Linked DNA regions of Homo sapiens. The protein of the gene in region 3 interacts with the protein of the main gene of each other region in a pairwise test. Each region holds a gene or a part of one and is shown on either strand. Other genes may lie near its edges.

Region 1 (3,500 bases), on a different chromosome or scaffold from region 3:
GAGGATGCTTTATCAGATTTGATCTCATCCTGTGGAAGAGCACTAAGGAGACGTGGGCAGATTCTCACCACAGATGGGCTATAATGGTAAAGAACCTGTTCTTCACCCATTGAGGCCTACGATGCCACCATCTTATTTATTTATTTATATCAAGCATTGCCTACTTGAAGGCTTATTTTACAAAAAAAAAAAATCTTGAGAGAATTAGTAATACTTATTGTGAATGTCTTACTCTGATTACTTAACTCGGTGACCAAAGAATCAAAAGCTATTAGAACTCTCCACTACCACCAAGACCTGGGTTGTTAAAAGCTCTGGATGGTGGGAAGGCAGCAATGTTGAAAAGTTCATAGAAAGGGAACAACATTCATTGCTTCTTCACAGTTCTGGACAAAGCATTCTCTGACCTGTTAGAACATGAAGATTCATACAGGATTTGGGGTTACTTTTCCCATGGCTTCAAGTCATAACAGCTCAAATTCCATCTTTGTCTTACTCTTAGGGTATAATAGAAAAACTGGCTGCCTTGGTCTTCATGAACTTCTAGTTAAATAAATAAATAACTAAAATGAAGCTCCTTATGAAAGCACATGGAGTTCTATTAAACCTCACTGTACTTTCATCCATACTATGATGACACACGTGTGTTTTCAGTCTTTTAAATACAATGAGATATGTCAAAAAGCCCCTGCAGTACCATGAACTGCTTATGCTCATGTGGAGGTTTAGAGACCAAGGTTGCCCTCTCTCCTTTCTTATGATCCATATCTTACCATACAGGAAGCACAGGCATTGAATAAAAGCGTTTAGAAAAGCACGGCCTCGTAATCCCACCATGAAATTTCTGCAGAACAGAACAGGCTTCATGATGTGCCATATTTTCGCCTCATGTTGTCTGGTGTCCGACATAACACCTGCTGATTGAATAATGCCACTGTTTTCTTTGAGGGGAAGGGGCCACTTACTTGGGCAGGATCACCTGCACCCTCTTGGGCACCATGATGCTCATCCAGCTGTCTATGGTCTTGGTGCTGATGTGTGGGATGATGGCAGACAGCGGAGTGGAGCTCTCAGTCGGCAGTGCAATCAGCATGCTGATGCTTTCCCCGTGGTAGGGCAGTTCAATGAAGTTGTACCATAAATCATTGGGGGCACTTGTCGACCCTAAAGAAATCAGAAGCAGGTTCAGTGTATCCTTGTTGACTTCTAGAAGCAGGATGAGTGCTTGCTGGTCACCGGGATAGCTTCAGAGAGCAACTCAGTTGGAGAACTTCCCTTTTCCACAAATAGCTTCCTTAGAAGGACAAAGACAAGGACAATTATTTCTTCCTTCCCCAGTGAAGAATTCTCCTTTCTTCAGTCTAGACAGAATGCCTTTGGGAATCACTGAAATCACTTTAATTCTGTTAAGGAGAATTTAACTAAATCACAAAGTGCTTAAAATTCAGTGCTTTGCAAGAAGTTGACCCTCACATGAATAAAAGAATACATTCAAGCTGCCTTAGAATCATTCCTTTTTTTTTTTTTTTTAAATAAAGTGTATTGTGTATATTAAGGTACACAATATGACGTTATGGGATACATATAGATAGTAAAATAGTTACTATGAAAAAGCAAATTAACATATCCATTATCTCACATAATTACCCATTTTGCTGTTTTTGGGACAAGAGCGGCTAAAATTTACTCATTGAGCAGGAATCCCAACATGGTGCAATTTTATTACCTCTAGTCCTCATTTTGGATAAGCCTACATGTGCAGGTGAAGAGAGACAGGGATACAGAGCATCCACAGGGCTCACTCTGTGCCAGGCCCATATCAACCCTTCAACAGGCTGAGGATCTACAGCACCTCACGGGGTAGGCGTAAGCAGTGCTATTTTGCAGTTGAGAAAGCCACCTTTAGAGAAATGAAGTAACCTCCAAAGGATGCACGGCTAAGAAGTGAGGAGCCAGGAGAGTCTAATGCCAAGGATTGTCTTCCTCCTACTTCACCACCCTGCCCTATTCACTCTTCACCCATTCCAGTAATCACCACTGGAGTTTTAGATACTTTATGGTACTTCTACTTACTAATGAAAACCCAAGAATAATTTAAGCCAGCATTTCTCAAATGTTATTTGGAGAACAGTCTACCTGCAAGATGCTCTATAGACAAAACAGATTCCACATCTTAGGGAGTTCAGCAAACAAGAAGAGAGAAAGCAAGTTTCTTGCACGATTTTCACTGATCTTTTCTTTGGAGATGACATGTGCCAATCACTGCCTTTGAGACAGGGAACTTCAATATGCCAGTTCTCCATAGAACAGGGTTGGGAGGGATGGACAGAGGGAGAGATGAAGAGAAAGATACCAAGAGAGGGAAAGAGAGTGTACTTGATGAACACTGAAATATCATAAAAATACTGAGGTTATTAGAATATATGGCACCACAGGATGACACTACAGTTTTTCCCTAAGGAAGAAACAACATAGAGAACTGGCAGAGGAACTGGGGCTCTCCTGGTCCTAGCACACTGCATTTCCTGCAGGGCTGTTCAGTAACCCGGGTGCAGCTCGCCTCAGCTCCCATGTGTGTTGAACTCTCACCCAAGCCTGGCTTCTGTCTTGCGGCAACCTAAGAATGAAAGAGAGGATTCTTCGTCTTTACTCTTAGCCTGCATAACAAAATGGTCTCAGCAGAAACGGAAAAATCAATGGGAAAGTGAGAAAAAAATCACTTCCTAATGAGCTCTTTAATCCTTGAAGAAAACATTAAATCTCTATTCTGGCGGAGCTAATTTTCAGAAACTGTGAAATATGGGAAGTGGTTAATAAGTGATTGCTCCAGGGCATGAAATAAGGACCTGGAGGTGTTAACTGCTTCTAGAAATGTTTACTATTTCTGTTAAGGAGGATTGAAGTAATGAATAATGAAAAGTTATGAGCTGGAATGTGTTCAAGGGAGGAGAGAGATCATCTAGCTTCACCAGTTAATCCATCCTTGGCTGGACCCATTATTAACTGATCAGTAATATTAATAACCATGAACCGCATCCAGTCACCTCTGCTTGATGACTGATTTCCCCCCACTCCTTCTGCTTCTGACCACAGAAGCTGATGACCAGTGGTAGCCAGGGTGCATCAGACATACGCATGCTTACCTTTATTTGGTGCCTTGAGGAGCTGGGAGATAAAATAACACCTTTTCTGTCTTTCTACCTGGTCACTCAAGTACTGCATCCTTTTATAGAGGACACGTGCCAAAGCCACGAGATCTGGGGTTATAAGACCTGTATTCAAATCCTGCACTTGTAGCACACTAGCTCTGAGACTTTGGCAAGTTCCTTGACTCCAAGTCTTAGTTTCTTTATCTGTAAAAGCCTACAATAATAGCACCTACTTTACAGAGCTATGAAAATTCATTGAGACAACACATACAAAGTGCTCAGCATAAGCTGGCCCATAGCAAAAACTGCCGTCTTTTGATGTAAGAAGCTTTGTAAAATACCTCACTTCTT
Region 2 (3,500 bases), on a different chromosome or scaffold from region 3:
GGACTAGGGGTAGATAGCATTAAAGGAAGCCTCAGGAATCATGAAATGAGAGGATTTGAGAGTAAAACTTGCAGGCAAACGAAAAAAAAAGAAATTTAAGAAAACAAAAACCCACACACACAAAAATAAGAAGTGCAGGCAACTGGTTTCATATTTACATCAAATTCCAGGATTACATGAGCTATCTTTAAGAGAGAGTGAATATAGTCATGTCACCTTTGTTAAGATGTACTTGTCCCTCAATACCAAGTTACATCATGGATCAGGGTTTCAGAGCACTAACATAATGCAAAAGGATTCTACAAACTCGAAAGGACTGAAAACCCTAAAACTTCTACTGAAATATTTGGCTTCCAAATTTGTTTTAAAAAATTACTGACAAATGGCCGGGTGCAGTGGCTCATGCCTATAATCCCAATACCTTGGGAGGCTGAGGCAGGAGGATCACTTGAGGTCAAGAGTTCAAGCCAGCCTGGCCAACATCGTGAAATCCTGTCTCTACTAAAAATACAAAAATTAGCCTGGCATGGTGGCACGCACCTGTAATTCCAGCTACTCAGGAGGCTGAGGCAGGAGAATCGCTTGAACCTAGGAGATGGAGGTTGTGGTGAGCAGAGGTTGCACCACTGCACTCCAGCCTGGGTGACAGAGTGAGACTCCATCTAAAAAAAAAAAAAAAAAAAAAAAAACTGACAAGCTAGAGAAGTCTGACTAAATCTGAATTTTAGATATTCTATATTATATCCCATTTTAAGTACTGCCTTGGTTTCACAGAAGGAAATTAAATTGGTCAGGCATGACTTGTTTTTCTACTGTGCCATTATGGTTGTCACCCAACATCCTGTGCTCTTTCAGATAATTAAATACTGAGACTCTGATTTGTTCTAAAAATTTACCAAGATCCAAGTTAAGATAATCTGATTATAATTTCTAAAGTAATATTTTAAATAGCCCAAATCCTAAGAACAGAAACTAAAATAAAGGCATTGCACGGGAAAAGGAAAGCTGCGAAAGGAGAACCTAAACACCATCACACTGGTCCCATCTCCCACCCAATACTGTACTATGACAGTCGCAGGCAACTATCATCTGCCAGGTGCCAAGGACCAAAACCTAATCAAGAGGCTTCTCCTCAGCTGTAAGCCCAAAGACTCATTCCTAGACCCACTACTTCATAAATGCTCTGAATGGCCTATCTACTGAGCCAGAAAGGAGGTCAGACTCCCCGACTGTGAGGTCTGATCAAATCTTGTAAATACAAGTGAGATCTGATCAAGTCTTGTAAATACAAGTGAGAAGCAATATACGATAAAGACTCCAGACCTACAACTTCAACACAACCACTTTATGTTTCTAGTCCATTTTCTCTTTTGACCCCTGAAAATCTCTAGAGAAGTCCATATAATTTTCATTCGTGGTCTAAATACTTAAAGAATATCTTTAAGAACTTCTTTTACAGATCAAAGACCTAAACATGTTTAAGTGATTTCACCAACACCATACAAGTAGTTGGTCTCTGACCTCCCATTTTTGGGGAAGACATTATTCAGAACCTTACCAGAGTTTCTGAGTAGTTGCTAGGAGTCTTCTTGCTACAAGCAAGAAGGCTAATTAACAATCTACGCAGGGACATAAGAACTTATAAACCCTATATTCACTTACTGGTTGACACTAAGCCCAAGCCCACAAGGTTTTAAATGTATCCGTTTAAACAAACAAGAAGCTACACTCCAAGAACAAAAAGGCCAATTTCTCTTAGAAAACAAGTCCATTCTAAATTCTTGACTTCTGTCTTTCACTTTCCTCTCAGCACAGGTTAACACATTAATAACCAGCCAGTACAGAAGCATGTTTCTAACCAACCCCTTGATTCCCCTGGCCAAAAGTTCTCTTAGTCTTCCTGAATTCCCACTTAAATGCTGGTAATATTGCACAGCTGGCCTACTGTGGTTAGGTATGTGTCTTTTACTCTCGTATTAGACTACCAGGTTCCTACACTTCTTCAATAAACTCCCTGAAATCAAGACTATGTCTTGTAATTCTTTTTTTTTTTTTTTAATACCCACAAAGCTTAGCACACCTATGTGTTCAACATTTGCTAAATGTATAAACTGGTTGATCATTTTCAAGGTTTGGTGTTACCATAACTCTAGGACTGAAATTTTATTCTACAATAGAGTTAAGACATATCTAAATGCCATAAAAGAGGTTATACAACATTATTTTCTAATTTTTAAATGAATGGTTTTCCATTTATTTCCAACCTTTTGTTGGTATTTTAATTTAAAAAAAAAATTGAATGTCAGAATACCAGGTACGTTTTCCTGAAAAGCTACAGGTAATGTTTGCATATTATATTTTTTCAACATTCTAAGAGTGTCTGTTATTTAATGAAGAAGTCCTGTGATTAAAAAGTAACTTTTGCAAAGAAAACAGTCACTCAATAATTTATCCTTCGTATTATGCCATTCCTTTGCTTCTGTTGTTCTTATCTTTCCAAACCTTACTCTTCCATAAAACCTCTTCTTGTTTTCCCAACTACAATCTCTTCCATCTGCCTTATGTTATAATTATATAAATCATTTTAATCTCTGCCAGTATATTATAAATTCCCTAAGAGTGCAAATGACTTACTAATTTTTGTAAACTTTGATCAATGTGTTGAAATCATGTCACACTGGAATAATAGTAACTGCCCCTATACATCTCAAAATAGTCTGCAAGCCTTAAGGCCAAATGAATTTTTAATTTAAAAAATCATCACGTATGATCATTATTTCAATTAATATTTTAATATGTGCAGTAAAGTTTAAAAAATAGCCAAGGACTATCTTTCAGAAAAGTAATAACATAAATAATGAGAAATTTACAATATCTGTTGCATAAACCCTCAAAACATTCACTGAAGGGTAGTAAGAAATGTCTTAAAGGCAAAATAAAGTATAATAAAGCTCATACACGGGAGAAGATCATCTCTTTGAACTACCAGAGATTTGACTTATTGCAGGATAACATTTCGAAAACCTAGATCTTACACTGAAAAGAACAAAATTGTTCAAAAGGTGATGTTTTAAAATGTGATATCTACAGCTACATTTACGAAATCACAATCGAATGTTTAAGGAAACAGCTGTATACTGCCTAAACACAAGTGAAAAGCATCATAGCTTACGTGATACCACTAAAACCACAGACATCAGCTGAGATTGTCCACTACAGACTGCAGTACCATGTCAATATTGCACAAATTGGGACATCACGACATCAAGTAGTCATTCACAGCCAACCAATCACGCCACCCACCATGCACAGCAAAATATATAACACACATTTCTTTCAATTATTACACTGTCATAAACTCAAAATCCTTTTAGAACAATTCTGTTCTTCAAAGATGTATCAATTTTAGACTCTGAAATAAAGTATGTATTGTATTTTGAAAAGGTTCTCAGGCTACCATGAAACACAACATCAGCTAAGAATCATGAGTTAGTTGCAAG
Region 3 (2,527 bases):
ATGAATATAAGCTTTTTGGCATACTCACTAATTTTGGAGCATGTAAAGAGAACAAATTTGAAAACAGGTGTCCTAAGACCACCATCACCTTACCAATGTCAGACTCCACTGAGGGGACAGAGTGTTGTGGCCTCAGTTCCAAAAGTACTTAAACCTCAAATTCTAATGTACTTAATATAAACATTCCAGAATCTCTCCTCTGTTATCTCTGCCAAGCTTCTGGCAAAGAAAGACATTTGAATCTTTCTATTATAACACTTTCTTAAAAGAATTTTTTGTTTTGAAAGAGAGCACTTTTTGGGAATTCTTTTAGGAAGGGCTCAAAGTTGATTCCAATTTGGGTTGTGGTTTCTAAGTGACTTGTGTATAAACCAGTTAAACAGAGACTTGCCGCTTGATGATGGAATGTTTTGAGTAGAGAATGGATCTGGGGTTAACATCCTTCCTCCAACTCCTTCATGCTGGGTGTGGAGAGGAAGAACGAGGACTATCACAAAGAATTTATATAAACAAAATACTTTATTATTGAGAGAGTAAAGGCCCAATTACAAAATTTTTATACTTAAGATCTGTTTATTACCATGCCAATGGTTTATAAGGACTGTAGTTTCCATAACTGTTAGGCTGAACCCCATGAAACTCCTTCTTTGTAGATAAAAGCCAGCCTAATATTGGCAATTTCACGTGGTTCAACCTCACATACAATGAGCCACTGCCTAGGATTCTTTTGGCAGCAAGATGTTCCCAGTCACATGTCTGTTTATATTATAAACAGATGTCCAAGTGATAAATACATCCCTCTTGAGAAAAACATCCTGTGCTTATGTATACTGGGAATGGTCTTTTGTGGGTATTGAGGCAGCGCAGCTCTGGCTTTGCTCTTCCCAGCTTGCCCGGCCACCCGATTCCTCAGTTTCATCACAGGAGGATTCTTTACAGATGTCAGCCACCCGTCCAAGGCCACGCAGCTAGTAAACAGACAAGCCTGTCGGACTTTGAAACCAACTTGACCGGGTCATTTATAAAGGCCGGGAATACACATGACTCAGGTGCTCTTTTGAAACGACTACAAAAGTCTCCATTTTGATCAAAACGTTTTCTCCGAATGAATGGCTCCGATGCTTTCTCTTTCCCATCTTAAGTCCCCGCTCTGTGCCTCAGAATAGTCTGTGTCCAAGAAAATAAGAATCACGTCATCTTGCTGTGGACACTGAGCAAAAAGGAGCAGCATGCTATTAAGATGGTTGAGACACACGAGTGAACAAAGATGGGACAAACTGTGCTTCGTTCAAGAGGTTTCATCAAGACCCCTACCGCCCCCCGTCCTTCAGCTCTGTACAGTAACTTTAACTTTACATAGAGCTGAGATAAAAATAAAGCTTTCTTACAAATTACATTTTTTTTCCAGTGAATTACTTTTGCAGTAAAAATAGCTGCTACATAAATCCCTCCTGATCTCTGAAAAGGAGTTGCATATTTCCAAAAATAATATTCTTATTTTAATCACACAGAAGAACGTGGAGCACAGGAAGGAAATGGCTGGGTGGTCAGAGAGAGGTGAGCTGTCGGAGAAACACAGTTAAACTAAAAAATAAAATCCATTTTGTGTATAAACTGACTTAAACGCATGCAAAGAAGTGGAAAACATATGCCATTTGTCAAGAAAAATACTGCTTTATAGCTTTTACTTTACAATTAAAGGAGAAAGCAGAGGCCAGATATAAGCCCAGATAATAACATTTAAGTTTCTCATAAAAACTCCCAAATGTACAAAGTCCTTGCCAGACAACCAAGGCAAGAAAACCCCCCAAAAACAAACAAACAAACAAACAAAAAAACACAAAAAGCAGGGATTACCCCCCACAGGCCTTATCCCTGTAAGTCTATTAAATGTAAATAATACATACTTTACAACTTCTCTTAGTCGGCCCTTGGCAGATTAAATCTTTGCAAAATTCCATATGTGCTATTGAAAAATGAAATAAAACCTCAGATGTCTGAATTCTTATTTCAAATACAGTTATATAATTATTTTAAATTACAATATACAATTTCTGTTAAATACAACTGTTAAGGGATTCTGAGAACAATTATAAGATTATAATAATATATACAAACTAACTTCTGAAATGACATGGTTGTTTCCTTCCCACCCTCCTACCCTCTCAAAGAGTTTTTGCATTTGCTGTTCCTGGTTGCAAAAGGCAAAAGAAAATCTAAAAATAGTCTGTGTGTGTCCACGACATGCTCGCTCCTTTGAGAATCTCAAACAGCCAGAACCATCCCGTCCCACGGACTGCCAGGCGCCAGGACGGCTTCCTGGTGCCTCTTTCTCGACCATTTTCACTTAAAAGCACTGTGAGTAGAATTAGCTGTGCCGTTGCTGCCACAAGGGAGGCAGCCTGGTCAAGAGGCGTGGTTTGGGATGCAATAAGGCCACTGCTTCTTGGCCACTTTCCTGGACATTTTCAATCCTGCCTTTCCTGGGTCCTCGGAGCAGCTGGTCAGGATGGGCTTCCCACTCAGT

Evidence for each region. Proteins that work in one complex are often made in the same cells at the same time.
Region 1: the proteins of ETS2 (region 3) and SERPINE2 interact in a two-hybrid assay, tested with the Homo sapiens proteins (one large-scale study listed by BioGRID and IntAct).
Region 2: the proteins of ETS2 (region 3) and DMXL2 interact in a two-hybrid assay, tested with the Homo sapiens proteins (one large-scale study listed by BioGRID and IntAct).

Annotation. Positions count from the first base shown.
Region 1 is NC_000002.12:223,983,787-223,987,286, forward strand, and holds part of SERPINE2 (glia-derived nexin isoform b precursor), read right to left. Parts: intron 1,165-3,500; coding exon 966-1,164; intron 1-965. UniProt on the Homo sapiens protein: Serine protease inhibitor with activity toward thrombin, trypsin, and urokinase. Promotes neurite extension by inhibiting thrombin. Binds heparin.
Region 2 is NC_000015.10:51,616,272-51,619,771, forward strand, and holds part of DMXL2 (dmX-like protein 2), read right to left. Parts: intron 1-3,500. UniProt on the Homo sapiens protein: May serve as a scaffold protein for MADD and RAB3GA on synaptic vesicles. Plays a role in the brain as a key controller of neuronal and endocrine homeostatic processes.
Region 3 is NC_000021.9:38,822,929-38,825,455, reverse strand, and holds the end of ETS2 (protein C-ets-2), read right to left. Parts: 3' UTR 501-2,527; downstream 1-500. UniProt on the Homo sapiens protein: Transcription factor activating transcription. Binds specifically the DNA GGAA/T core motif (Ets-binding site or EBS) in gene promoters and stimulates transcription.